4 linked regions of the Homo sapiens genome follow. The protein of the gene in region 1 purifies or fractionates together with the protein of each later gene. This does not show direct contact. Each region holds a gene or a part of one and is shown in the gene's direction. Other genes may lie near its edges.

Region 1 (7,020 bases):
GGGCACAGAGCTGGGGGCCCACCCACTGCTGCGGGTGATGCCTGCCGCTCCCTCCTCTGGGCCCCCAGGTCCCCCCGGGGGGTAATAAGACGCAGTATGATGAGATTGGCATTCCCGTGGCCCTGCTCAGCTACAAAGACATGCTGGACATCTTCACGGTAGGTCTGCGCCGGCTCAGACCCACGCTCCCGAGGAGATGGGGCAGGGGGCTTCGGGCTGGCTGCCGGGGGGGTTTGTGCCTCAGTTGGTGGGATCAGGGTGGTGGGTGAGGCGTGGCCCCTGCAGGCCAGGGTCTCCAGCCCCAGCCCCACAGCCCACAGCTGCACGTCGACCCATGGCTGGCGGGTGGCTCTGACGCCTGCCTCCGGTGTGTTCCTTGAGGCAGCGTTTCGGCCGCACGGTGAGGGCGGCGCTGTATGCGCCTAAGGAGCCGGTGCTGGACTACAACATGGTCATCATCTTCATCATGGCTGTGGGCACCGTCGCCATCGGCGGCTACTGGGCCGGGAGTCGGGACGTGAAGAAGTGAGTTTCGCATCGTGCGTGTGCTGTGACGGGGTCGGGCGGCTCTGACACGGGCCGGGACGGCCAGTCTTCCAGAACAGCAGTGAGTGCTTTGGCCTCGGCAGGCACGGCTCGCCCCGTGGAGCCCTTCGTTTCTTCCTCAGGAGGTCCTGGGACAGAATCAGTCTCTTTTCCTGCCAGGGTGGGCTCCGGGCACCTGGTGGGTGTGTAGGGCTGGGCAGGTGTGGATGTGGCAGGTACGGGCGTGGCAGGTGCAGGGCTGGGCAGGTGGCTGGGGCCAGCTACCCTCTTCCTGCTGAGCCGCCTGGGTCTGGGGAGGCCCCATGTCCAGGGCTCTTTATGCAGATCCAAGCTGCGGTTGCTGCCCACACGCCAGCCTCTGGCCCGGCCTAGTGGCCACCCCAGCTCAACCCAGGGACGCGGGCCCTGCCACCCTCTGCTGTGTGGTCTCCTCTGCCCTGGGGACGTTCGGGGCGGTTCCTTGCACTTCAGTCCCCCCCGGGTCCCCTCCTGCTCCCGGGTTTTCTGCCCCGTTCCCCCGGGTGGCTGTGGGCTCCCGAGCCCCGTGTCGGCCAGCCGGCCCCAGGGCCCCACGACCCCATGGTGTCTCCCAAGAAGGTACATGAAGCACAAGCGCGACGATGGGCCCGAGAAGCAGGAGGACGAGGCGGTGGACGTGACGCCGGTGATGACCTGCGTGTTTGTGGTGATGTGCTGCTCCATGCTGGTGCTGCTCTACTATTTCTACGATCTCCTCGGTGCGCGGCCCCGGGCGGGTGGGCCGCGGCGTGGAGATGCAGCCCGCCCCGTGCGGAGGGAGGGTGGCGTGCGGGCCTGGCCCCCGGCCTCACGGCCCTGCCCCTGCAGTGTACGTGGTCATCGGGATCTTCTGCCTGGCCTCCGCCACCGGCCTCTACAGCTGCCTGGCGCCCTGTGTGCGGCGGCTGCCCTTCGGCAAGTGCAGGTGAGTCTGCCCTGCTGGCCCCGACGTGCCTGACTCTGTGCGGTGATGGCCACGGCCCCTTTGCCGCCCCATAGCCCCCCATGGTGCAATATTGCTCAGAGTCTACAGCAGGCGCTCCCTCAGTGCTGGCCTGGGGCTCCTAGGCCCAGGAGCAGGGCGGAGTCTGGGCGAGCTATCAATGGAGCCCACCAGCAGCCAGGCGCCAGGGGTGGCGGGGGGAGGGTGCCCTTGTCCCCAGGAACCCTGCCCCAGGTCGCAGGCCGAACCCTGGGTTCCCCAGGGTTCTCCGGGGAACCCAGAAGGTTCCCCACAGCCCAGAGCTTGGCCTGGCTCTTAGGGGTAAAGGGAGCTGCTGGGGGGTCTCCAACAAAGTCAGACCTGGGTCTAGGAAGCGGGGCTAGCCCAGGGGGAGACCTTTTTGTGTTGCCGTCCCTGGGTGAGGAGGTGGGAGGTCTGGAGCAGGCAGGGCCTCGGGCGAAGGGGCGCAGCGCAGGCGAGGGGCTCTGTGGGTACAGCCCGTGGCCCCCAGCGCCTGCCCGGGTCGGGCTCTGCCCTGCCCTTGGGGTGCCTACTGTTGTCATCGTGTGGGATGTGGAGTTTAATGAGGACAACAGAGTGGGGGCTGCCACTCTGCAGGGGGTGCCTGGGCCGGTCCCAAGGGTGGTGGGCAGTGGGATGAGGCCGGGAGCTGGTGGGCTTGGCTCTGACTGCCCCGTGCCCCCCAGGATCCCCAACAACAGCCTGCCCTACTTCCACAAGCGCCCGCAGGCCCGTATGCTGCTCCTGGCGCTCTTCTGCGTGGCCGTCAGCGTGGTGTGGGGCGTCTTCCGCAACGAGGACCAGTAAGTGCTGCTTCCCCCGGGCCCCGGCGGGCAGCGGAGTCCTCGGGTGCACCAGGGCTCCTGGGGCCCTGACTCCCTGCCCTCCCTGGAGGCCGCCCCAGCCTGGAGCTGCTTCAGCACCGCGTGATGAAGAGCCCTGGCCCCGGGCTGCTCTGACAGGGCTGCGAGGGCGTTTCACCTGGGGTTTGTCCGGGTGTCATGGGAACCCTGACTGGAATCCGGGAGGAGAGGCCGGAGCCCCTGTGGCCAGGAGCCACGTCCTCCAGCCTGGATGGGACTCCTTTGTGGGGCATCGCTGCCCAGGGCCACAGTCTGTCCCCCGCTGTCCCTTTCCTGGCACCCACGTGCACGCCGCAGGTTCGAGGCCCAGGGTGTGGGCACCAGGGCACCCGGTCCTCTTGGTCATGACTGCTGCGGCTTCTGAGCAGTGGTGGAGGTGGGGCAGGCACTGCTCCCCCCACGCTCACCTCCCACGTGGCCTGGACTTGTGGCTGCCTCCCGCTGGCCGGGCCTCCCCCATGAGGCCGAGTGCCTGGTGCCGTGTTGGGAGGACAGAGCTGGCCCGTCCCCGCCCGGTCCCCACCGCTGTCGCTGATACCATCTGGCACTTCCTCCCAGCCTTCCTGAGGCAGCCAAGTACGCTTGGCTTTGGTGTGTATTGGAGCCACGGCACGTTTAACTGGCAGAAGGAAGATGTGAAAATATTTTGAATCCTTTGTACACAAAGAGAAAATGAATCTTTTCAGTTATTTCCAAGCCAGGAAACTCGCTCCGTCACATGAAGTTAGAGCAGGCCTCAGTCAGCTGGGCGCAGGGGCTCACGCCTGGGATCCCAGCATTTGGTAGGCCAAGGCAGGACGATCACTTTGCCCAGGAGTTCAAGACCAGCCTGGGCAACAAGCGAGACGCCCTATTTAAGAAATAATATAAAATCAGAAAAAATAACTGGCCGCAGTTCTCTGGGTGCTTGAAGTACGTGGCGCCTGGAATTGGCTGTACCAGCGTCTCCCATGGAGGCCTCTGCTGTTAGCAGCCGCCCCGCCCTGGAGATGTTTTTATCCCATTTTCAAATGAAGCCTTTGATGTTTGAGACGCTGAGGAACGCTGGGGAACTCGTCCAGCAAGTGACAGGCAGAGCCTGCATTGGGGGCAGGGGCCAGCGGGGAGGGGACTCTGGGGCTTCGTGGGGCCAGGAGAGAGCCGAAGTTGCGGCTGGCTGCAGGGGCCGTGGCCTTGTGCAGGAGGCAGTTCTGTGCTTTGCCCCAGGGCACCAACCGCATGGCAGCCCCACCCACTGTGGACCCAGAGGTTCTTTGAGGAAACCTGGTGTGGCACAAGTTTTAATTTAATAAACAGTTTGGGCACGGGGGCTCATGCCTGTAATCCCAGCACTTTGGGAGGTGAGGCGGGCAGATCACTTGAGGTCAGGAGTTTGAGACCAGCCTGGCCAACATGACAAAACCCCATCTCTACTAAAAATACAAAAAAATTTGCCTGGCATTGTGGTGTGTGCCTGTAATCCCAGCTACTTGGGAGGCTGAGGCAGGAGAATTGCTTGAACCTGGGAGGTGGAGGTTGCAGCGAGTCAAGATCGTGCCACCAAACTCCAGCCTGGGTGACAGAGTGAGACTCCATCTCAAAAACAAAATAAAAACAGTTTGGAGGGGTCAGTGCCCAAGCCCTCCTGCGCACGCACCCTCTGCCTGGCCCCTGCCTACAGCCTGTGACCCCTGCCTACAGCGTGACGCCCACCATCCGGGGACAGTGACTGAGGGGACGCAGCCGGCCAGGCCCGTGTCCACCATCCTGGCCCCACCATCCGGGGACAGCGACTGAGGGGACGCAGCCGGCCAGGCCCGTGTCCACCGTCCTGGCCCCACCATCTGGGGACAGCGACCGAGGAGACGCAGCCGGCCAGGCCTGTGTCCACTGTCCTGGCTGCCGAGTGGTGGGCTCCTCTACCTGCTTCCGCAGGGTGGGCCCTGGGGTGGGGCCTGTGCCGCCAGCCCTGCTGGAGTTGTAACAGCAGGGGTCCTCCCACAGGTCTGGGGTCCTCAGAGTCATCCCCTGGGCAGGTGGAAGGGCAGTGGGGCTGCGTGCTGGCTGAGAGCAAGGGCCCTGTGTGGCTCGTGGGAGGCGGCGTCCTGGGTGGTCAGCCAGCCTCTGCCCCGGCGAGGATGCTGCTTTGTCTTGCAGGTGGGCCTGGGTCCTCCAGGATGCCCTGGGCATCGCCTTCTGCCTCTACATGCTGAAGACCATCCGTCTGCCCACCTTCAAGGTGAGTGCAGGGAGGGCACGGCTGCGGGGCAGCATGGGTAGTGGGGGCCCTTCATCCTAGCCTGGCCCGTGTGGGGCTGTGGTCCTTGCAGGTCTGTGCTCCTGCTCACTGCCCTGGGGATGGCCGCCTAGGCCTGTTGTGAAGGGTGGGGCTTGAAGATTGGGTCCCAAAGCCCCCGCTGAGGCGGCCTGGGTGGGTGGCTGCGGGGCGGTTCCCGGCAGGGGCAACTCATGTCTAGATGAGGTGGTGGTGAGAGTGGTTGAATAGGGCTGGAGGAACTGGCCTCAGGTGGTACCGGGAGTGCGGGGATGTTGTCAAGCCCCAGGCGGCTGCACTCCCGTGAGGGCCCCACAGCACCCCAAGCAAGCGGCATTTGAATGCCCAGGATGGCCCTCTGTATCCCCAGAGCCGGCCCTGCGTGGCACAGGCCTCCGCCCTCCCGTCCCCGCCTTCCTGTTACGTGGAGACTCTAAAAGCCTGACTTTTGCCCGTAAATCCCTACCTGATGTTGCTTCCAAAGCTCCTCCTGCGTGGTGCGTCCCTGGCACTGGGCACGCTCTGCTCAGGTTCCTTTAAAGGCTGCCTCCCAGGAGGAGGCGCTGGGCCTCATGAGATGGGAGTGGGGGAGGCACGGGCCGGGGTGGGGGCCGCCCTCAGCCGTGGGCTTCGCAGGCCTGCACGCTGCTGCTGCTGGTGCTGTTCCTCTACGACATCTTCTTCGTGTTCATCACGCCCTTCCTGACCAAGGTAGGCGACTGCCTGTCCCTGCTCCACCCCATCACCCCGCTCCCCCGCCCCCTCGCAACCCCCGCCCCATCACCCCCCCCATCACCCCGCCCCCTCGTCCCGCCCCCTCGTCCCCCTCCACCCCACACCGTGCTCCCCTGCCCCCCACCCCATCACCCCGCTCACCTCCACCCCATCACCCTGCTCCCCTGCCCCATCACCCCCCATCACCCTGCCCCTTGCACCCCCCCATCGCATCACCCTGCCCCCTCGCCCCATCACCCCACTCCCCTGCCCCCCCACCCCATCACCACGCTCCCTCACTCAACCCCATTCTGTGCAGAGTGGGAGCAGCATCATGGTGGAGGTGGCCACTGGGCCCTCGGACTCAGCCACCCGTGAGAAGGTGTGTCTTCTGACTGCAGGGTCTCAGGTTGCCATGGGTCAAGGTGTTGCGCGGAGCGGATAGGGCTCGAGGCATCCCGCGGCCGGGTGAGGGTCCTGGAGGACATTGTCCTCTTCCCGTCTTTGCAGCTGCCCATGGTCCTGAAGGTGCCCAGGCTGAACTCCTCACCTCTGGCCCTGTGTGACCGGCCCTTCTCCCTCCTGGGTTTCGGAGACATTTTGGTGCCAGGTACTGAGGCGGGTGGAGCACACGGGTCCACGCTGTGGGGCAGGGCCCCGGGCGGCTGAGGTTTGCCTTTGGGAGTGAGTGGCCCGCACACCGTCGGCTGGAGATAAAGCCCTGAGGGTCAGAGTCGGGCAGGTTGGGGCCGTTGAGGCCTGGGTGCCTGGGCAGCGAGGGCATTGCCTGGGTGGGGTAGGGACCCCCTTTGTTCCTAGGGAGCGGGGAAGGCCCCCCGATTGCAGACAGCCTCACCCCATCCTGCTCGGGGTTGTGCAGGGGTCCTTGCTGGGGCCTGGATCCCGGGTCCCAGTGAGCTCATGTTGCTGCAGAAGGCAGAGACTGTACCCTCGCAGCCTCAGTGTCCCCAGGGTCCTGCCAGGTGTGTCTGCCTGGACTTTGTTCTCACTGTGGTCTCAGTTTACCCACTGAGAGTCATGGCAGCCCTGTCCCGAGCGAGCGTGTGGCCTGTCTGTGAAATGACAGCAGCCACCAGGCAGCGAGAGGCCCACGGCGCCCACAGGTGCTCAGGTGCCCGCCCGCTCCCAGGAAGCCCCTGCTCTGAGGCTCTGCGGGCCCGAGTAAGCCTCCGCCCTGTGCCTCCCCCAGGGCTGCTGGTGGCCTACTGCCACAGGTTTGACATCCAGGTACAGTCCTCCAGGGTATACTTCGTGGCCTGCACCATCGGTAAGTGCCTCGGTTGGGCCCGTGCTGGCCTCTCTGGCTCCAGCCCCACCCCGACTTAGCCTCTGTCCTGACCCTGACCCCTAACCCCAACCCCAACCCTAACCCTAATTCCAACTCTAACACCGTAACCATAACACCCTAACCCTAACCCCCTGGCCACTCCGGGAGCTGGGCTCGGGTGGCTGGGCCTGTGCCTGCATCCCCCTCTTTCTCATTCTCCCCGGGCCTGTGCCTGCAACCCCCTCTTTCTCATTCTTCCTGGGCCTGTGCCTCTGTCCCCATCTTCCTCATTCTTCCTGGGCCCGTGCCTGCATCCCCCTCTTTCTCATTCTCCCCGGGCCTGTGCCTGCAACCCCCTCTTTCTCATTCTTCC
Region 2 (7,020 bases), on another chromosome or scaffold:
AAATTTGTAGTTTATTCTGATAGCAATGGCGAGCCAATATAATTTTGGGAAGAGTGATATGACATTAGGATTTTTGTTTTATTTTCATTGTCAGGATGGCATCAGAAGTGGCTTTCTGCCTCTTAGAAACCTTGTTGATTCTCTTAACCTGAAACTTAAAGTTGGCTAGGGTTAAACAGAAGATGTCCAAAATAACAGTATTAAGGAGAATTTTTTAAATCTTTGGAACCAAAATAACTCACACATAATTCTTTAAGAAAAGAATATATATACATATGTACATACACATATATATAATATTTATACATATGTACATTTATTTATGTATTTATTTATTTATTTCGAGATGGGGTCTCGCTCTGTTGCCCAGGCTTGAGTAAAGTGTGAACCTGGCTCACTGCTTGACTTCCCGGGCTCATGCGATCCTTCCACCTTGGTGTCCTGAGTAGCTGGGACTACAGGCATGTACCACTATGCCTGGCTAATTTTTTTCTTTTCAATTTTTTTGTAGAGACAGGGTCTCAGTATATTTCCTAGGCTGGTCTTGAACTCCTGGGCTCAACTGATCCTCCTGACTCAGTCACCCAAAGTGGTGGAATTACAGGCATGAGCCACCATGGCCAGCCAAGAAAAAGATATATTTATTGGCTGGGTGCGGTGGCTCACGCCTGTAATCCCAGCACTTTGGGAGGCCAAGGCGGGCGGATCACGAGGTCAGGAGATCAAGACCATCCTGGCTAACACGGTGAAACCCCGTCTCTACTAAAGGTAAAAAAAAATTAGCCGGGCGTGGTGGTGGGTACCTGTAGTCCCAGCTACTCCTTCACCGCAGAATGGGGCTGCGACAGAGTGAATATCCTGTTTGCCGTGTAGCCTATATTTAAAATCAGACTGTCCTCCTCAAAAGCAGCTGGAACTGAGGTTCAAGAGATGGATGTGACTGTGTATAGGGAGAGGCATACCATTTTTATTTTTAAAGTATCAAGAGAAATCATGATTTCACATTAACAATACAAAGTTGCAAAAGCAAATGTGAATAATGAGCAGGTACTGATTTGGCCAGCTTTATAAATGTGTAACTTTTAAAACTGGGTTATTCATCTTTTTAAAAATAGTTTGTGGAAGCTCATTGTGTATAGAGAAAATTGGCCTATTGTCTGTTGTGAATTATAGTTTTTTTTCAGTTTGACCTTCTTAAAGTTTTTTTCCCCCTTAAGGGTATTACATTCGCCCATGAAATTATATAGTAAAATCAATCAATTTTTTTCCTTTAGAGCTTCTTGGGTTTTATGCCCTATTAAGAAAGGCTTCCCCCAACTCCCAGATTATAAAATAATACATCTAGACTTTCTTCAGTCAAGTACTCTATAAATCTGTATTTTATTTTTAAAAATAACAACAGAGTAAGGAGTAACGGTAAGGGTGAAACATTACCTTGATCAAAATACCATTTATTGACTGGCTTATATTTTCTCCCAGTGATATTGGATACTGCTTTTCTCATAAGTTAATTTCTCATATGTGTTTGAACTCTCTGTTCTGCTAAGGCTTTCCCATGTGATTTCCTAAACTTGGGTGGTTAATCCCCTCTAGTTGCCACTTGGTCTCCTCTCTCATTGGTGAGCCCTATCTTTACTATCCCCAAACTAACTATACACTAGCAGGGGCCAGGGAGACTAGCCAGGATGTCAGATACTTTGACTGAATGCCTAAGAGAGAATCTCAGGGGTTTTACTATAATAGTTGCCTGAACTTACTTTCTTTTTGAGACAGAGTCTCACTCTGTCACCGAGGCCAGAGTGCAGTGGCACAATCTTGACTCACTGCAAACTCCACCTCCCAGGCTCAAGAGATTCTCACGCCTCAGCCTCCTGAGTAGCTGGTATTACAGGTGTGCACCACCACACCCAGTTCATTTCTATATTTTTAGTAGAGACAGGGTTTTGCCATGTTGGCCAGGCTGGTCTCAAACTCCTGGCCTCAAGTTATCCCTCTGCCTCGGCCTCCCAAAGTGCTGGCATTACAGGCATGAGCCCCAAGCACAACCACATATATAGCTTTAATTAGGTGAATTTTCAGTAGAAATTTCCAGTAGAGCTATTTGGCAAACTATTTCTTTTTCAGTTCAAGTTGCCTTATCCATTTAAAAATAAAGAGTGTGGTCTGGAGCTAAAAAGCCTGGGTTTGAATTTCTGCTCAGCCATTTACTAGCTCTGTGACTTTGGATGACTTACTAAAAGTTGTCTCCACCACATAGGTTTATTGTGAATATTAAATCCATAAATACACATAAAGTGTCTAGAATAAGTGCTTGATGTATATTGAGTACTTAATAAATATTGGTTATTTATATCATAGGAACCACTATATCATATCATAGGAACTCTGAAGATGATTAAATATCTAAATGCTGATTTGTATATGTTTGTTTGAAAGGGGACAATTCATCTCTTTCGAAAACCACAAAGATCCTTTTTTGGCAAGTTGTTACGGGAATTTAGACTTGTAGCAGCTGACCGAAGGGTAAGTTATTCCTTAACCCCAATTTTAATTATTGCACAAACAACATTATAACATTGAAGAAAGATAATTTTTAAGGCCAATAGAAATCACTCCTGATCCTGCCACACTGTTTTCATTTTTCTATGTTGGAAAAGTATTTTTTTAGTGTAAAATTGCAGTTGTTTGGTGTTAAGTTGTTTTACTTTGGTAGGAAGCTTCTGTTAAAGTTTTGATTCTAATTCTGAAGTGTTTTAAAGAAAAATGGTTTTGTGGTTGCTTTTTGTTATTAAGTTTTCAAAAAATTAAATGGATCCAGTCTAAAGCCATGTTTTCTCTTTTATTTATTTTTTTTTTTTTGAGATGAAGTTACACTCTTGTTGCCTAAGCTGGAGTGCAATGGCATGATCTTGGCTCACCGCAACCTCTGCCTCCCGGGTTCAAGCGATTCTCCTGCCTCAGCCTCCCAAGTAGCTGGGATTACAGGCATGGGCCACCACGCCCGGCTAATTTTTTGTATTTTTAGTAGAGATGGGGTTTCACCATGTTGGTCAGGCTGATCTCGAACTCCCGACCTCAGGTGATCCGCCCACCTCGGCCTCCCAAAGTGCTGGGATTACAGGCGTGAACCACCGTGCCTGGCCCATGTTTTCTCATTTTTAATGTAGGGCAAGAAAAATATGTTTTGAGACTGTAAATAAAAAGATGTAATTGCCATCCTTTTAGGCCACCAATGTAAACCTTCTAGTTACTGTGTTTCATGCTTCTCATTGTTGTCTAAATGATAAACTCTCTGAGGGAAGTGACTGTCTCTATTTTGCTCACCTTTTTATAGAAGTACAATATAAACATTCAGTAAATATTTGATGACTTTTAAGTAAAGCCAGCTTCAATGAAACAATAATAAGCAGTACCAATGGGCACTCCAATTGAAACTCTGCCATATTTTCACTATTTTTCAACTCCGTTATCCTCATTTGCTTCCTTATCCAACTTAGATTCTATGCTCCATCATTATCATTTCCCTCCTTTTTGTTCTTTTTTTTTTGAGATGGAATCTTGCTAAATTATCCAGGCTGGTCTTGAACTCCTGGGCTCAAGGGATCCTCCTTCCTCAGCCTCTTGAGTAGCTGGGATTACAGGGGTACACCACCACTCCCAGCTAGTATCATTTTCTTTTATATGTTCTCAACTCTTTTGTGCTCCCCTTCCCTCTGTCTTAATTCCTGGAAAATCCCTAACCTTCATTAAGTTCACTTTCTTTCTACTCTACTTGCATCTAAGCAACTGAATGTAACCTGAGAGAAACAAAACCATGCGACTGGTCTCACTTTGAATTCATGATCAGACAGACCATTAGTGCTGCCTATTAAGTGCTGCCTATTAGTGCTCTTTCATTTTATATTTCCTTTGTTCATTCAATTTTCCAATTTCCTAGATGGCTGTTTCATACGATGTTCTTTCGTTTCTATCCTCAAGCTTCTAATACCTTCTTCATCCTCACCCTAACCTGATGATCTTGCTTCCTGTTTCACCAAGGGAAAAGAAGTAATCAGAAGAAAACTTCTACATCCTATCATTAGCACATCAGCCATCACTCCGCCTTCCCTCCTATTTCTCTGGACAAGCTTTCAGTTCTTCTCTATAAAGGCAATCCTTTCACTTGTTGCCTACTGAAAGATGATGTCCCTATAATTGTTCTGTTTCTTACATCATTGTTTTTCTTGCATCATGCATCATTCTCCTCTTTCTTGCATCGTAATTACATGTTATAAGTTCCACTCTCAGGGCTGCTTCATTTCTCAGCTTCCTTTTGTAGCAAACCTACTTGAAAGAATTATCAGTACATTGTGTTCACCTTCTCTTCTCCTCATCTTTATTAAACACATACCAGTTAGGTACTTGTGCCCACTAATTCACATAAACAGCTTTTACAAGGTAACCAAAAATCTCTGTGTTGCCAAAATGAAGATTTTTCCTTATTTCTCACCTTACTTGGTTGATGTTGAACAGCCAAAGTCAGTACTTTTTTTTTTTTTTTTGAGACAGAGTCTCGCTCTGTCGCCCAGGCTGGAGTGCAGTGGCACAATCTCATCTTACTGCAACCTCTGCTTCCCTGGTTCAAGCGATTCTCCTGCCTCAGCCTCCCAAGTAGCTGGAAATAGAGGTGCCTGCCACCACACCTGGTTGATTTTTTGTTTTAGTAGAGACGGGGTTTCACCATGTTGGCTAGGCTGATCTTGAACTCCTGACCTCCACCCACCTTGGCCTCCCAAAGTGCTGGGATTGCAGGAGTGAGCCATTGCACCTGGACAAGATTACTAACTTTTAGGAACATCATCATGCCCTTTATTCAGATTCACCAGTTGCTTACATTTGGCCCCATTTGCTTCATCGTTGTCTCTATAATATGTACTTATAGAGACAAAACGATATGCATATGTATGTGTATTTTTCTCAACTATTTGAGAATTTCTATGTCAGAATTTATTTTCTCTTGAACAACTCTCCTTCTGGAACTATTCTTTTAAACTTGTATACTGTAATAACTTAGCCGATGACAATTTTGGTAGATGTAGAAAGTGTGACACAGACTTTTTGAAGGAAGTTATGTTTATTCCTTTGAATATCAGAGTATAAATTGTAGCAACTTGAACAGACCCCGTGAAATTTATCACTTCTGTACACATAAGAGTGATTTTTATTTTCACAGTCCTGGAAGATACTGCTCTTTGGTGTAATAAACTTGATATGTACTGGCTTCCTGCTTATGTGGTGCAGTTCTACTAATAGTATAGGTATGTCACCTTTGTATTTTTATGGAGTTGTTATTTTTACTTTTATTTTTCTCATTGGAAATAAAGGTATATCTTACATAGAATATATTATTCTGAAATGTATATAACTCAAATGATTTAAATAAGGGACTATATTTAAAACTTCCCTGTAAACTGTAAACTTTTGTTCATTTGTTAGGATTGTAATTTTTTTTTAAGTTTTTTTCCTTTTAAAATATATTTTAAAACAGAAATGGGGTTTCGCCATGTTGCCCAGGCTGGTCTCAAAATCCTGAGCTCAAACGATCTACCCACCTTGGCCTCCCAGAGTGCTGGGATTACAGGCGTAAGCCACAATGCCTGGCCATTTTCATTTTAAATAAGCTGTTATTTTTTGAAAAATCATTAAATCTATCTGGAGATTTTTTTTTTTTTTTTTTTTTTTTGAGACGGAGTCTCACTCTGTTGCCAGGCTGTAGTGCAGTGGTGTGATCTTGGCCCACTGCATCCTCCACCTCCCTGGTTCAAGCGATTCTCCTGCCTCAGCCTCCCAAGTAGCTGGGATTACAGGCACGTACCACCACGCCTGGCTAATTTGTGTAGTTTTGGTAGAGATGGGGTTTCACCATGTTGGCCAGGATGGTCTCGATCTCCTGACCTTATGATCCACCCGCCTCAGCCTCCCAAAGTGCTGGGATTACAGGCGTGAGCCACCGTGCCTGGCTGGAGATTTGTTTTTAATATAATAGATTAAAACTTTAATTTATGCAGTTTGTAAGTTAGATTTTGAGGTTTGTTGGCTTTTCCTTAAAAAGGGAATTCTGTAATTTTTTTCTTATATCTTTTTATGTTTTTTATTGCATTGTTCTTTTGTTCAGTTATTCAAACAATACATTTGAAATAGCGCTGAGATTACAGAAGCAGGCAGAAAAATGGTAACAGGGCTTTTGAACATTCATTGCTTCATTTTTCCTAATGGAGAAATCAGGTTGGGAAGTAAGCTTTTCTACCAACGAACTTTGGCTACATATATTTATCAGATTTACTAGATAACTGCCAATATATGAGGTTGGCCCGTGACTCAAAAGTTTTTTTGATAATGGATACCCCTGGTAGAAATAATTTTGGTAACTTGCTGTATTTTTTTAGAGGGGTCAGTAATACTTTTAATCATTTTTTTGTTGTTTTGCAGCTTTAACTGCCTATACTTACCTGACCATTTTTGATCTTTTTAGGTAAGTTTTTAGGAAATCTTAATGTTTTGGAGCTAATAAGGAACTTGGTAGAAATGTGGTATAGCCATACAATTCAGCAATAAAAACAGCAACTACTGATATCTTACAAGAAAACAATAAAAACATTATGCTTTGAAGACAGTCATAAAGGACCACATATTTTATGATTTCATTTATATGAAATGTCCAAAACAGGCAAATCTATGGAGAGAAAAAGTAGATTATGAAGAAGTTTTCTTTGCTTAAAGGAAAGTAATCTACTAAATAAGTAAAATTATCAACATAGAACAAACACACAAACAACAATAATTAGAGACATAACAGTAATTAGAGAGCAGGTGGGGCGGCTCATGCCTGCAATTCCAGCACTTTGGGAGGCCGAGGCGGGTGGATCACTTGAGGTCAGGAGTTTACGACCAGCCTGGCCAACATGGTGAAACCCCGTCTCTACTAAAAATACAAATAGCCAGGCATGGTGGTGTATGCCTGTAGTCCCAGCTACTTGGGAG
Region 3 (7,453 bases), on another chromosome or scaffold:
CCCTCTGCCCCACTGCCCCTTCTAGGGCTGTGACCTGAACTCTTCAGTGGCAGAAACTGAATAGCTCTTCACCACAAATTCATGTCCTTTTTTCCTGGGCACGTGGCTAACTTTACTTTCCCAGGTTCCCTTGCAGTCAGATGTGGACATGTGACCACTTCTTGCCAATTGAAAATGTGTGGGATGACATGTGTCATTTTTGAGCCAAGGCTTTGAAGAAGTAAGTGTGTGCCCTGCACCCTCCCTCTTTCTCCTTCAGCTGGATGGATAGAGAAGATGAGGAGGCCCAGGGGATTGTGGAACCACAAGAAGGAAAAAGCAGGGTCTGTGTATCAGTGCCTGAAGGCAAGCCACCCATCAACCTGGAAACCAGCTTCAGACCATTATGTAAGTGGGAAGTAAAATTTTTTGAGCCTCCTGACAGATGCACAAACCTTGTAAAAATAGTTAAAAAAAAAAGAAACATCAAAAAAATTTTCAGGTCATTATATACATTAGGGCCTATTTGTTATAGCAGCTAGCACTGCCCTAGTTAACACACTTCTTCTCCCAGCACTGCCTCACCTCTCTCCAGACACCTTGCTTCAGGCCACACAGACAGAGAGATTCAGTCAGACTTGATGTGTGAAAGGGGTTACGGTGGAGGTTGCTTTTGGGCCTGGACCATTGCCAATGGTGGTCTTAATAAGGTGTGTGACTGTTTCAATGTGCCTGTGGGGGTTGTAGGGTGTGTGATATGGGTGAAGACTTCCTGTCTGCTGTGCCATGGATCTGGGCCATTTCCTAGGTGGCTTTACAGTCCTAGTCCTCACAACCACTTTGTGAATGGTGCTTATTATTACCATTTCACAGATCAGGAAACTGAGGCTCAGAGAGAAGTGAGTTGCCCAAGGCTATACATCCTCTTAGAGATCTGCTAAGCTGTGAGTGTGCTTGGGGTGCCTGGAACTGGGCTTTGGCCACCACAGATGCCCACAGCTCATCTTCTTCCTGCCAAAGGACAGTCACAGTCTCTGCCTGGGACTCCCTTTGAAGTTCATACTCTCCTGCAGAGACACCTCTTCCCTTCTCTCCACCATGGATGCCAGTTCTAGCTCTGACCACATCTTCACCACAGCTAGCCCTGGCTGTTCCCATCTCTTAGCCCTTATCTAGTCTTCTCCATGCCATGAGAGTGGTGGAGTACCTCCACCCACAAAGCACCATCCTCGACTTCTCCCTTCCTGGCTGCCCACAGGGCATCAGTTCCTGATTTAGTCTCTGGCTGGGACTTCAGATCCTTCTTCTCTGTGAAGACCTCCTTGGCTTAGGCCTCACCCTCTCTCCCCCGATCATGATGAATCCAGTCTCCCTATTATCCCCGCTCCAATCTCTTCTCCTCACCATAGCTAGAGGAATCCACATTGGTCACTCCCATGCTTAGAAATATCCCATTGAGTTCTGGGAAAAGGCCATGTTCCTTACTTGGGAATTGAAGGCCCTTTGAGTTTTGGCTTCAGCTCCCCCGCAGCCCCCAACTCCAACTTCTCAGCCATTCCAAACTACTTGTATTTCATCTGCTCTCACACATCCCTCCCTAGATTGCAGCTCCTCTTCTCTCTGCTGAGAATGCCTTTACCTTTCCCGGAAAACTCCTACTCATTCTTCATGACCCAATTCCAGGTTCTAGAACAAATATTCATTCTTTCACCAGTTACTTATTAATCACCTCCTATGTGACAAGCACTATTCTAGATGCCAGGGATTCAGTAGTGACCATAGCTGACAAAAATCCCAGCCCCATGAAGGTCCCATGGAATGTGCATGTTTTTGTTTGTATGGGTGCAGATAAATCTCTGGAAGGGGACACTCCTTGCGAGGGGAGTGGCAGAAGACTTTTGTTGTGTCTTTTCTTTTCTTTTCTTTTCTTTTTTTGAGATGGAGTTTCACTCTTGTTGCCCAGGCTGGAGTGCAATGGCACAATTTTGGCTCACTGCAACCTCCGCTTCCTGGGTTCGAGTGATTCTCCTGCCTCAGCCTCCTGAGTAGCTGGGATTATAGGTACCCGCCACCATGGCCGGCTAATTTTTTGTATTTTTAGTAGAAACAGGGTTTCACAATGTTGGCCAGGGTAGTCTCGAACTCCTGACCTCAAGTGATCCACCTGCCTTGGCCTCCCAAAGTGCTGGGATTACAGGTGTGAGCCACCATGCCTGGCTTGTTGTGTCTTGTATGTCTGTTCTCTCTCTGTTTCCATACACACCACAAGAATGTGTGACTTTTTTGAGACAGAGTCTCACTCTGTCACTCAGGCTGGAGTGCAGTGGCAAGATCTTGGCTCACTGCAACCTCCACCTCCCAGGTGCAAGTGATGCTCGTGCCTCAGCCTCCTGAGTAGCTGGGATTACAAGTGTGCACCACCACACCCAGCTAATTTTTTGTAGAGACAGGGTTTCGCTATGTTGGCCAGGCTGGTCTCGAACTCCTAGCCTCAAGTGATCCACCCACCTCGGCCTCCCAAACTACTGGGATTACAGGTGTGAGCCACCGTGCCTGACCAGAATGTGTGACTTTAATAATAAAAAAGCGAACGAAAAATATATGACCAAGAAAAGATTCAGCACTCAATCCTGAATAAGTCCATTCATTCAAGAGGGCAGTTTCTAAAAGGAGCAAGCAACCAACATCCCTCCCTGTGATCTACAACAGGAGTCATTGATTCAAATGTCTGGAGGAGCCAGGCAAGTGCTGTAAACGAGTGACCAGGTGGGGACCAGCTTAGAAGAGGAAGGCATTGGTGGAGGGGCAGTCCCATTCAGCTCCAGCCTATTGTTCTGTTGTGGGAATGTGTGCCTAGATCTTTTGCTGCTGCTTCTTTTTTTTTTTTTTTGGGTAAAAAAACGGAAGTCTGGATTTCTTTTCTTCTTCTTCTTCTTCTTTTTTTTTTTTTTTGTAGAGACAGAGTCTTGCTCTGTCGCCCCGGCTGGAATGCAATGGCGTGATCTCTGCTCACTGCAACCTCTGCCTCCTGGGTTCAAGCAATTCTCCTGCCTCAGCCTCCCGAGTAGCTGGGACTACAGGTGTCCGCCACCACGCCGTTAATTTCTTTTGTATTTTAGTAGAGACGGGGTTTCACCGTGTTGCCCAGGCTGGTCTGAAACTCCTGAGCTCAGGTAATCTGCTCGCCTCTGCCTCCCAAAGTGCTAGGATTACAGGCCTCAGCCACTGAGCTCAGCCGGAAGTCTGGATTTCTGATGTGAATGTACATATTCCGACTTTGTGTGTGTGTGTGTGTGTGTGTGTGTGTGTGTGTGTGTGTGTGACAGAGTCTCGCTCTGTCGCCCAGGCTGGAGTGCAGTGACGCGATTTCGGCTCACTGCAAGCTCTGCCTCCTGGGTTCAAGCCATTCTCCTGGCTCAGCCTCCCGAGTAGCTGGGACTACAGACACCTGCCACCACGCCCGGCTAATTTTTTGTATTTTTTAGTAGAGACGGGGTTTCACCGTGCTAGCCAGGATGGTCTCGATCTCCCGATCTCGTGATCCGCCGGCCTCAGCCTCCCAAAGTGCTGGGATTACAGGCGTGAGCCACCACGCCCAGCCTCTATATTCTGACTTTAAAATACTGGTAGTTAAGCCATTTATTAGAATATTGGCAGGTAAAACAGAGCTCTATTCAGCTGCAGGCCACCAGTTTTCGACCTCTGATTCACAGCTTTCCTGGGCCTTCCATGGACGTTACTTGCTGTACCAGGCACTGCGCTCTTTTGCATAGGGATGAGTTCCAGTCATCACTGGGGTCCCAGGCCAGGATCTGTGTCTGTTCCTCTTGCTTCAACCCGACTAGGCCTGAGGAGTTGAGGGTAGTGGAGGCCCTCAAATAATTGGGAATTCTGAGTCTCCAAAGGCGCGAAGCTGGGGCGCCTGACGGCAGGCACGGCTTAAAGGCTTGCCCAGGGCCACCCGGGGAGGACAAGGGTTGGAATGCAGGACTCCGCCTTCAATTCAGAGCTCCTTTCTCCAGGACTAGAAAAGGTTATTCCAGAGACGGGACTTGCGGCCAGAAGCCCAAGACGTCCTAGTCTTCGCGAATCCGCCCCATTAGAGCGACCGACAAAAACTACAAATTCCAGCATGCCCCGAGTCGCGGACGGCCCTCGCGCTCCCGCCGGCTCCAACCATCCCTCTGCTCCTCATTGGCTCGCAAGCCTAACGTGCTGTTCCGTGACTGGTTACAGCTCTTGTCGCTCGAAAGAACCCATTGCTGGGGCTGGCCGGCGTGTGCCTTGGAGCCTCTAAGGAGATGAAACTGCACTCAACCAGGATGAGAGGCTGCCCGGCCAATGCAGCTGCCGCCCCGTCTGCTGCGGAGGCTTTGCTTTTTGACTCCCTGGCGACAGTAAAGTTGAAGAGCTTCCGGCCGGAGGCCAATAGATGGGACCCCCGGAAGGCGGAAGTTCTAGGGCGGAAGTGGCCGAGAGGAGAGGAGAATGGCGGCGGAAGGCTGGATTTGGCGTTGGGGCTGGGGCCGGCGGTGCCTGGGAAGGCCTGGGCTTCTCGGCCCCGGCCCTGGCCCCACTACACCTCTCTTTCTTCTTTTGTTGTTGGGGTCTGTGACTGCGGATATAACTGACGGCAACAGTGAACATCTCAAGCGGGAGCATTCGCTCATTAAGCCCTACCAAGGTGAAGCCCTTGGGGCGGGAATGAGTGAAGAGTGAGGGCGAGGCTGAACAGGGCTAGGGGAAGGCGTGCCCTTTCTCCTGAGCAGAGCATCTCTGTGGGTTTCCTGCCTCTGGTGAGGCCAGTCCTGGCGTGGCCTCTTAGCACCTGTCTCTTCCCACAGGGGTCGGTTCCAGCTCTATGCCCCTCTGGGACTTCCAGGGCAGCACTATGCTCACGAGCCAGTACGTACGTCTGACCCCTGACGAGCGCAGCAAAGAGGGCTCTATCTGGAACCACCAGGTGAGTGGTTCTCAAGAGGATAGGCGTACTGTGCGGTTGGCTGCTAGTCCCTGCCTCCCGAGCAGCTGAGACCCCAGCTTCGTTTATAGGTTTGCACCTCCGTCCCTGGCCTTTTCCTCATCTCGGTCACACCCACCAATAATAAGAGGCGATGGGTATTGGGTACTTACTATGTGTCAGGAGCTGCGCTTGACACTTTACATCCTCCTCACTTTAAAAGCCATGCGAGATGAGTAATGTTATCTCCATTTTACCCACTGAGAAGCTAAGACTCAGGTTTGAAAGGGCCTTACCCAAAGTTACATAGCCAGAAAGTAGTGGAACTGTCAGGCTGTCTGCCTTGAACCCCCTCAGTAATGGGAAGAACCGAGCGAACTGGATCTTTATTGGGTGTTTTGCTGTGTATTAGGCACTGACCTTGCCATGCCTTATTGCATTTAATTTTCAAACAAGCTGTTTGAAATAGATGGCTTTCATGACTATACAAAGATAACCCAGCTAGCAAATGTCATAAACAGTATTTAAACTCTGATTTGTCTGATCTCTAAGCCCAGCAGTTCACTCGATGTACTTGACTCTTTTCACCTGGACAGTGGAGGAACCCCTTAGAACCCTTTTTGCAATGCTTGGTTGAGGGTCTTGTCATCAGTAGTGTGGAGGGACTGGACCTGTGGGCAGTTCTAGTGTCTGTGACCTTTGCCTCAGAGTATGTAGTATGTAGTATGTGAGCAGTGGCCAATGACAGCTGCTACACAGAATCCACACTGAGGCAGTCAAGGTGAGGAAAAAGGGGAAAGAAGAATAATTTGGGGCTGGGTTACAGCTTGGAGCGGGACCTGCTCCTGCCCCAGCTTGCCTAATCTCAGCCCTTCCCATGGCTTAAGCTGTTGGCCAGTGTTCTAGTTTTCTCCATCACCCTGCTCTCTGATCCCTGCTGGTTGACTTTCTTGTTTAGTTCTGGGAACCCACACTGTCCTTGTGTTGCCTGGTCTGCCCGTCCCCTCTGCTCCTCCTCTCCTTCCTGCCCCGAGCCTCCACACTGCTGTTAGTGGCATCTGCGGATACTTTCTTCAGCTTTCAGTCTGATCCTCAGAGCGTGGAGTCCCCTGTGAAGGGGTAAGCATGCATTATGTCTGCACAATCTGGCCCCTTGTGCATCTCCAGTCATTCTCTGTGTTAATTTTGTTCCAGCCCCCCCTGGCTGCCTTCTTGCCTCAGGACCTTTGCACCTGTTGTTCCCTCTGTCTGGGACACTGCCTCCTGGCTCCTCATGCCTGCTTGGTTCCTTCTCATCTGTTAAGTCTCAATTCAAGTGCCACCCACGCAGACATTTCTTCATTAACCACCCTATCTCCCCCGAGTCACATTCTGTCACATTCTGTCTTAGGGCTTTCAGATATTTTAAAGAAATGATAATTCAGCCTTATATTTTTCATGGAAATGAGTTCAGTATAGCATTATTATTATTTTTTGAAAGCAAGGTGCAAACAGTGCTGGAACTGTAGAAATCAGGAGTAGCCACAAGTAATAGACGCATCTAAGACAGTGGCTTACATTTTGGTTGTAGATAGCTGATGGTTGGCATCATCAGTGGCTCGAGGATGTCACAGGACTGAGAGGCTTCTGCACTTGCCTTCATCGAATTTTCAGTCTGGAGTACAATTGTTTTGCCTTCCTTCCTCCACCTTTCTATTTGGCTCTGCTGATATTCCTGAAACATTTGGAGTGCTTCCTGTAAACTCTGGAAAGAAATGGCTTGGAAATCAGAATTTTCTGTTCAGTGTTTCCCAAGAACTGCCTCTTCCTTTAATGAGCTGGAGAGATGCTTCCTAAACTTTTCCCTTTTTTATCTCCTTCATTCACTCCATCCGGGAGAGGCATGCACTCAGGCGAACATTCCCTGAACACCTGCTGTCTTCTGAGCAGCCATAAAATAGCTCCTGCTGTGGTGCAGGGGGGGTGGTCTAGATGAAGGAGTGGCTCAGAGTTGACTAGAACTCTTAAGTGCCTGGTGGCTGCAGCATAGGACCTGGGGAGGCTGCTCAGGCCCTGTCCTTTTGGGGGTCTTGTGCGGAGGCTGCGGCAGTGGTCTTTAAGCTTTCTTTGCTGTTGTAGCAACCTTTTGAAAAGTTGGCATCAAAAATTGTTTGTCATTAGGTTTAAGTATTTGCAAAGGATGACAGCATATTTTAAATATTGACATTTTAAACTAAAACTGTTCAGTATTTTAAACATTCAGTGGAATCTAAATATTGCAATTTGATATCCACTTTTTTTTTTTTTTTTTTTGAGACGGAGTCTTGTTCTGTCACCCAGGCTGGAGGGCAGTGGCGCAGTCTCGGCTCACTGCAACTTCCGCCTTCCTGGTTCAAGTGATTCTCCTGCCTCAGCCCCCTGAGTAGCTGGAATTACAGGTGTGCACCACCACGCCCAGCTAGTTTTTGTGTTTTTAGTAGAGGTTTTTTTTTTTTTTTTTTTTTTTTTTGAGACAGAGTCATGCTCTATCACCCA
Region 4 (7,873 bases), on another chromosome or scaffold:
TAGGTAGTAGCCTTCAGAGAGAAAGATGGTAAATGTTTCTTTCAGACCTTTATGGTGCCGGACTCTCAGTCTTTCCTAGATCAGACAAGAGAAGACCTTCGGAGAATGCAGGACTTTATCAATGCAGACTTTTTCTACAAATGCTAATCTCTCCCACAAAAGACAGCTTTTTAGCTATTATTTTATTTCCAGCCTTTCTGAATAGTCATCTTGAACAATGTCAAGAAAATATATTTGGGGGTGAAATATTTTCATTTCCTTCAAGATCACAAAATCACCTCAAATAACAACTCACTGATAGAGTCATAGAGGGTAACACCAAAAATTTTTCTGATGAGCCTGATATCAGAGTGAATCACAGAAATCCTGTATTCTAGGCCAGTGCTCCTCAGCCTTTTTTTATTATTGCTTCCCTAGGAATTCATTTCAGATGCTTTTGCCTGATTCCCTCCCCCATGACATCTTAATGTCATAGCTTTACTAGCACATGTGCTGTCTGCATATCCATGCATTATATATTAAAAGAGAGATTTTTTTTAATCCCTCAAGCACCAGCTTTTGCCTCCATCGCATGTTCTAGACCCAGATCTACCATTTACCTTGCTATGTTTTTGATATAGTTTGTATATTTGTCCCCACCCAAATCTCATGTTGAACTATAATTCCCGTTATTGGAGGAGGGGCCTGGACAGAAGTGACTGGATCATGGGAGTGGATTTCTCTTGAATGGATTAGCACTATCCCCTTGGTGCTGTCCTTGAGATAGTGAGTTCTCAGGAGATCTGGTCATTTAAAAGTGTTTGGCCCTTCCCCGCCAACTCTCTCTCTCTTGCTCTTCCTTTTGCCATGTGATGTACCTGCCCCTCTTTGCCTTCTGCCATGATTGGAAGCTTCCTGAAGCCTCCCCAGAATCAGATGCCACTATGCTTCCTGTATAGCCTGCAGAATCATGGGCCAATTAAACCTCTTTTCTTATAAAATACCCAGCCTCGGGTATTTCTTTATAGCAGTGCAAGAACAACCTAATACCTTTTTCTTAAGAAAAGCTACTACAATTTCTGAGTGTTGGTTTCCTCTTGGAAGACTGACCAGAAAGCATGACACTAGTCTCAATTTTCTGCCAATATCTGTCCCTCCACAGATACTACCCCACTAATGACCTTGTCCTTTGGCCCACTTACAGCATTTAGTTGCACATATGTGAGGGGTATATATTGTCAGTTAGGTGAATGCAAAATTGAGCTACATTTTTCTTTAAACTGCCATCGATGTCATTTTCAAGGCCCCAGTCAGTTTAGAGCAGACAGCCTATTTATTCCATTTTGCAAGCTCAGAACAGTCTGACAATTTGTCTGTCAGTTTCAGGATTTATTACCATCAGTCACATTGGAGTTCAAAGTCCTTTCTCCTCTCCTGGGCCACAACTGGATTAGAAACATTTACATTAAACAGGAGGGGAAAAAGTGTAGCTTCTCTGTCCTTCCACTCTACCTCTTAGTCATTGCATTGTCATGCAGCTGCCGTTCAGCAAAATCTAAAGGGAGTAGTCCCCATGGCTTCATTGTCTTTCTGTGGCTGGCAGGATATAACTTTTGAAGTTGGCACAGTTTGATCTCTCACCCAAGCAGAGTCAAATGGCTCTGCCTTGTCATACACTAAATGGTCTGTTGGTGCCCATCTGGGCATCTCACCCACACATACTTCTAGTGTCGCCTCACTACTGAGCAGCATCTCGAAGGGTGCAAACAAGCAGGTGCGTGCTCACAATCACATTCTTGTGTTTATCTAGACCTTAGGGATTCCAAGGGAAAACAAGGCCAAGATGGGGAAGATCTTGTAACTTTCCTACCTGCTCTGTTGTCTGCCACTTAGCAACCACATGAGAAGCAGGTGCCAATTGGTCCCTACATTCAGAAACATCTGCAACCTTTCAGGAAGAAGCACCTTCCCTTTGTTGGGAGACTCCATCAGGGAGGGCAGAGGTTAAAGCCCCAGCAAACTCCCTTTCCAACTCTGTTTCATTCATACCACATCTTCTGATGGGAAAGCATAGTAGGGCAAGGTGAGAGCATTTATTTTAACTGAAAGTAAATAAAATATTTTATCTTTTGTCCTGGCTCTGAGTTTTCTCCACTATAATGCAGCATATCTCACTTAGCCAGCAAGTGGAGAATAAGGAATTCATCAGCAGACTGTAATAAAAACCGTGACATATATATAGTATTGGAATTTACGAATCATGTCTTTTCCTTTTTATTTACTTATTTATTCTTTTATTTTTTATTTTTTATTTTTTTGAAGTGGAGTCTCGCTCTGTTGCCCAGGCTGGAATGCAGTGGCACGATCTCGGCTCACTGCAAGCTCCACCTCCTGGGTTCATGCCATTCTCCTGCCTCAGCCTCCCGAGCAGCTGGGACTACAGGTGCCCACCGCCATGCTCTGCTAATTTTTTTTTTTTTTTTTTTTTTTTTTGGTATTTTTAGTAGAGACGGGGTTTCACCATGTTAGCCAGGATGGTCTCAATCTCCTGACCTTGTGATCTACCCGCCTCGGCCTCCCAAAGTGCTGGGATTACAGGCGTGAGCCACCACACACAGCCTACTTATTTATTTTTAAAGACAGCATCACCCTATGTTGCCCAGGCCGGCCTTAAGCTCCTGGGCTACCTCCCCAGTAACTGGGACTACATGCATGTGCCACCATTCCCGGCTTGTCCTTTTCTCTATCCTACACTCTAAGAACTTAGAAGCAGAGAACTTAACAATTAAACACTTCAAACTAAGTTTTATGTATCTACTTCCCCTCACTTGTATCTCTCCCTGTATCCTATTGCTAAATTAATGATAAAATTATCCACCCAGTTCAGAAGGATTACTCAGGGAGCCTTCCTCATTCTTATCAGCTATATTTGACCGACCATTCAATCCTGCAAACTCCACTTCAGCAATATATCTCTGTCATAAACCCCTCTGTGTCTTTCTACTGGCTTAATTCCAGCCTTTATTGCCTTTTGGTTGAACAACTACAATAAATTCCTAATTGGTCTCCTGGTCCATGGAACCTCTCCCTTCCTACACTGCCACAAGAGCATATATTTCCCAATGATATGACCAGATTCCTCCCCTGCTTCAAAATATTTGACCCCTGTGGAAACAACAATACAAGCCCTTTACTTGAGAAAGGAAAATATGAAATCAGACATTTTTCTTCCAATATGGAGAGAATAAGCTTTAATAGGAATCTTGAAGAAAGCTTGAGTCATTGACTTCAAGATCTTTATTCTGGTACTGTGTTGTAAATCCTTTCTCTTTGCTGATAACAGAAGCTCTAGAAAAAAAGACTATCACTGAAGGAGCCAAACAGAAAACCTATTTGCTAGCTAATAAAATTGGGCATAGATCAAAATAAAAATTAAACTGATCATGCTTGATCTGTTCAGTTTCGTGAGATTTCTCTAGTGTTTTCCTGCCATTTTCAGCGTAAAGAGATAAGAATTGTGTTGCTGCCAGACTCTTTTATTATCCACATAGAAGGCAAGTCTTTATATTTGTCAAGGTTTACATGATTAGGAATCATAAATCACAATTAACTACTGCTTAGGAGATAAAGGTTCATGAATTTTGCATGTTGTTAATCACCTTATCACCCTTTCAGGGTTTTAATCTGCTCTTTCTTCATGGTATTAAGTTATCACATTATATTTTTTCTATGTTCTGTCTCTACCAGAAAGTAAAGCCACAGAGCAAGGACTTTATTTTGTTAAAATAGTGGTAGCACACACGGGTTTAATTCATTTGCTGTTTTTTTGTTTTTGTTTTTTTGGTTTCTTTTTTTTTTGAGACTGAGTCTCCCTCTATCGCCCAGGCTGGAGTGCAGTTGCGGGATCTGGGCTCACTGGAACCTCCGCCTCCTGGGTTCAAGTGATTCTCCTGCCTTAGCTTCCCAAGTAGCTTAGATTACAGGCACCAATCACGCCTGGCAAATTTTTGTATTTTTAGTAGAGACAGGGTTTCCCCACGTTGGCCAGGCTGGTCTCGAACTCCTAACCTCAAGTGATCCACCCGCCGCGGCCTCCCAAAGTACTGGGATTACAGGCTTGAGCCACCACGCCCGGCTGATTCATTTGTATATATTTCTAGAACAGAGCTTGGTACGAAGTTGAGCATTCAGTAAATATCTGTTGAAATAGAGGGAGAGTGAAAAAGAAAGTAACTCTCTCGCGTATTCCACAACTAGCTCTTCACCTATCAAATTACGCGCAATGGAAACATCTTAGTCCTCAGAGCAATCCTGGGTGCAAGGCAGAGGCGGCTGTTATCAGGCCTATTACACAGGTTTAGGGTGAAACTTGAAAATGTGGGCGGGAAAGTCACAAAGCAATGAAAAAACCATCTAGAAAAAATCTTTTCTGGATGTCACCATCTAACATTTGGCATGAGACCCCAGAAACCGGATGACTCGGCTCAGAAGCAGACACATTTGAAAAGATATTTATCTCACGATAAATTAAGGGACAAAAAGGCCTTCAAAAAGGAACGGAATAAACGGAATAATTTTTAACTCTAACATTACTTTCTTTCAATTTTTACATAATTCTTATAGCTGCGGCGAGTGAAACGACTAAAACAAAAGCAAAACAGAGCTCCACTGCCCAAAACAAAGATGGCCGAGACGACTCCCATGCCCACACGCAAAATGGACGCTGACTATGACGTTCCCTGCAACAATCCTCAACTGGCCCCGCCCCACCAATTTGGAACCCCGCCTCCTCAACCCGGAACCCCGCCTCCCCCAGTGTGGCCGCTTTTCCGACAGAGGCCTGCCCGTGATTGGCTGCTCGTACTATTTACGTCCTTTCGATGTTGCGTCATGCAGTGCGCCGGAGGAACTGTGCTCTTTGAGGCCGACGCTAGGGGCCCGGAAGGGAAACTGCGAGGCGAAGGTGACCGGGGACCGAGGTACTGCTCCGGCTGGCCGGCGGGCGCCCGGGATCCCCGGTGGTCCTGACAGCCGCCCTCACGGGACCGCTGGGTGCGGGGGGAAGGGCTGGAAGCAGCGGTGCTGCTGGCTGCGTCAGGGCCGGCCTGCGCGTTGGGGTCGCAGTCCTGTGGGTGACCTGGTGGAGAGGGCGGCGGCACAAGGCCCTGGTCAGGCGGGCAAGGGCTCAGTGTAGCTGTGCTTCTGTCCTCGGGCAACAAGGTGCTGAGTCATCCTTGCGGCGAGGCCGTACAGCCGCTGCGCTGGTAGCGGCACCTGGGGCAGGGGCAGAGGTGTTGTGGGTTGACAGGGAAGTTTGCTGCCGGGTTCTCATCTGAATCTAGCGGGCTGGGTGAACTTTCTCGGGGACCAGGCACCCAAACTCATCAATGCTCACGGAGGCATAAGCCCTTGGATTAGGGTCGGTAGTATTTTCCCCATTTTATAGCAACGACATCTGAGTCTTAGAGATCCACACTCCTCACAAGGTCACTTCTAACCTGTCAGAAGCGGGATTCCCACTCTGGGCTGTTACGCCACATGGAGGTCACTCTGAGCTGGACCTCTTCGGCCCCAACCAGTGGACTGAGTACTGAGGAAGATACAGGACAGCCATAGGTTGAGATGATGTAATGGCACGAAAGTTCCAAAAGCGCTGGGTGTTTTCCCAAAGGCCGGGTGCCGAATTTTAAGACCCTTAATAGTTCAGTTGCAGAGCTCGGAGGACGCTCGGGTATCTTAAAGCAATAGTTCTTAGCTTTTGGAGTGTTCGTTAAAACACACGTTCTTGGTCTTATTCCTAGGGGTAGAATCATTAGGAGCAAAGAAAGACCCAGGAGCCTACATTTTAAGATGCATCCGGGGCACTTTCAAGCAGGTAGTCTAAGGGTCAACGCTGTAGTCTGAACACGGAATCCTTATGTTACAGATGGGGAAATGGGCCCAGAAGTATATCACTTGCCTAGAATTCACTACAAATCATTGGCAGAGATGGGCTGGTAGCCCCAGTTGGTTTACACTCGTCATTTCATTCTGACCTATTGTAGTCACCTCACCTTAGCATTACAGAAACACTGTCTGCTGACTTCTGGTTGACCACCCATCTAGTATAATGTGCCCTGGAGCTAAGATAATCCAGTTTTTAGCATGCTTTTCTTTTGAAGACACCATCGAGGGAGTCTAATGTAAGGGAAACCTGGTTGGTAACTGAGTTTACTTGTTTACTTTGAAAGACTAAATGTCCTTTACGCATTATAGTAGGACATATAGAATAGGTTAACTTAGAATATTTTTATATCTCATGTTGAAGGAAAGTAATATTTGGTATGATTAGCTGAAATTCATATAGTTGGCTTCTTTTAATACCTTTTAGCTTTGTAATGCAGTATAACCTTGAAGAGCTATTCATGTCTTCTTTGGATGACACTATTCCTTTGCCCAAAAGTTATGTAGATTCTTTTAAATTTTCCCACTGGATGCTGGTATAAATCTTAAGCCAAAACTACATTTGTAAAAACCATCACAGACTCTGTAATCACGTCCAGTTATTAACAGCCGTTCTGTGTTACACATAATTTTTGCAGTCATCTATTTTGATTGGTCAAACTGGGACTTAAACCTAGTTTGTTCCTCCATCTTCAGCTGTGTTCTCTGGGATGGGTTTCTTGCATTACAGTGGATGGTTGGGCAAAGAATTCATCGCTGAAAATTAAAAAGGTCGCTTTATTTCCTGTTCTACTAAAAAATAGTTTGTTCCTTGACTCTGACTCTCATATGTCCTTCTCTTAATTGGTTAGTAGGTTGTTTTACTTATGTTTTTTTGGTTGGTTTTGCCTTTTTTTTAAACTAGCATTTCAGATCTGCTCGGTAGACCTGGTGCACCACCACCATGTTGGCTGCAAGGCTGGTGTGTCTCCGGACACTACCTTCTAGGGTTTTCCACCCAGCTTTCACCAAGGCCTCCCCTGTTGTGAAGAATTCCATCACGAAGAATCAATGGCTGTTAACACCTAGCAGGGTAAAGATAATCTGAATGTTTTTATATTGCTTCTTTTTCCATTTGTGCCCTTTCTTTTTGGCAGAGTATGGCTGCTCTGCCTTTAGTGTGTTATACGTCAGTTAGCCCTGATAATATCCCCAATCAGCTCTTTCTCCCCATTAGTTTGTATCATTCTGGTCCCTCCTTATCCCATATGAAATAGAAAATGAGTTTCTGTAACTCTGTCTTCGCTTACAGCTTCTGGAGTTTCTCATTTAGAAAATTTAGAGTACATTGTGAGGGATTGAGAGTTACATAGTGTAACGGAGATCCTGGAGCACATAGTCAGAAGTTTAAGAACCCAGGGATATTACCAGTTGGCCAATAGCTTATTAATAAATTACTAAATATATTATCTCTTATTTAGAGGTTGATAATATCTGTCAGGTTAGAAAGAAACCCATTTTTATAATAGATTTATCTTCTGGCATTCAGATTATAAGGTTTGAAGTGTGAGGTAATGAGGACAATATAAAGAAGCTAGGAGACATTTTCTCTTTTAAATTAACTGTTCCACTGTTGAAAAAGAGCCACAATGGAAGTAGTAGTCTTCCCTCTTCTTGGCTTCATGTTAAGGAAAGATGCTGTTCTTGAGTCCATATCCCAGATGACAAAATATAGCTAATAATGCTTGTAGAATGCATATCTTAAAAATGCTAACAGATTCTCACCCTGGTATTTGGTTAGGATTTAAAATATAACAATTCTAGGTATGTAAATCTATAGTTTGTGAAAGAAACAATTTTTCTGAAATTGAAACTAAGAATAATATAATGAATTACTAACTTCCAAAGGTGGAGCACAGGGAAGGTCTACATTTATTTATTTATTTTTACATTTAGTTTTTTAAGTTGGCTA

The links.
Region 2: the proteins of SPPL2B (region 1) and SLC30A6 purify together in Homo sapiens (co-immunoprecipitation; 3 studies listed by BioGRID and IntAct, with this or other methods). This does not show direct contact.
Region 3: the proteins of SPPL2B (region 1) and LMAN2 purify together in Homo sapiens (co-immunoprecipitation; 3 studies listed by BioGRID and IntAct, with this or other methods). This does not show direct contact.
Region 4: the proteins of SPPL2B (region 1) and GHITM purify together in Homo sapiens (co-immunoprecipitation; 3 studies listed by BioGRID and IntAct, with this or other methods). This does not show direct contact.

The regions. Positions count from the first base shown.
Region 1 is NC_000019.10:2,338,684-2,345,703, forward strand, and holds part of SPPL2B (signal peptide peptidase-like 2B isoform 2 precursor), read left to right. Parts: exon of another isoform or gene 1-68; coding exon 69-158; intron 159-381; coding exon of another isoform or gene 382-385; coding exon 386-525; exon of another isoform or gene 526-607; intron 608-1,140; coding exon 1,141-1,283; intron 1,284-1,392; coding exon 1,393-1,489; intron 1,490-2,214; coding exon 2,215-2,331; intron 2,332-4,527; coding exon 4,528-4,609; intron 4,610-5,281; coding exon 5,282-5,356; intron 5,357-5,678; coding exon 5,679-5,741; intron 5,742-5,869; coding exon 5,870-5,969; intron 5,970-6,569; coding exon 6,570-6,647; intron 6,648-7,020. UniProt on the Homo sapiens protein: Intramembrane-cleaving aspartic protease (I-CLiP) that cleaves type II membrane signal peptides in the hydrophobic plane of the membrane. Functions in ITM2B and TNF processing.
Region 2 is NC_000002.12:32,168,851-32,175,870, forward strand, and holds part of SLC30A6 (zinc transporter 6), read left to right. Parts: intron 1-2,436; coding exon 2,437-2,523; intron 2,524-5,212; coding exon 5,213-5,297; intron 5,298-6,468; coding exon 6,469-6,511; intron 6,512-7,020. UniProt on the Homo sapiens protein: Has probably no intrinsic transporter activity but together with SLC30A5 forms a functional zinc ion:proton antiporter heterodimer, mediating zinc entry into the lumen of organelles along the secretory pathway.
Region 3 is NC_000005.10:177,348,662-177,356,114, reverse strand, and holds the start of LMAN2 (vesicular integral-membrane protein VIP36 precursor), read left to right. Parts: upstream 1-4,446; 5' UTR 4,447-4,467; coding exon 4,468-4,663; intron 4,664-4,823; coding exon 4,824-4,942; intron 4,943-7,453. UniProt on the Homo sapiens protein: Plays a role as an intracellular lectin in the early secretory pathway. Interacts with N-acetyl-D-galactosamine and high-mannose type glycans and may also bind to O-linked glycans.
Region 4 is NC_000010.11:84,134,636-84,142,508, forward strand, and holds the start of GHITM (growth hormone-inducible transmembrane protein), read left to right. Parts: upstream 1-4,873; 5' UTR 4,874-4,958; intron 4,959-6,826; 5' UTR 6,827-6,865; coding exon 6,866-6,994; intron 6,995-7,873. UniProt on the Homo sapiens protein: Plays an important role in maintenance of mitochondrial morphology and in mediating either calcium or potassium/proton antiport. Mediates proton-dependent calcium efflux from mitochondrion.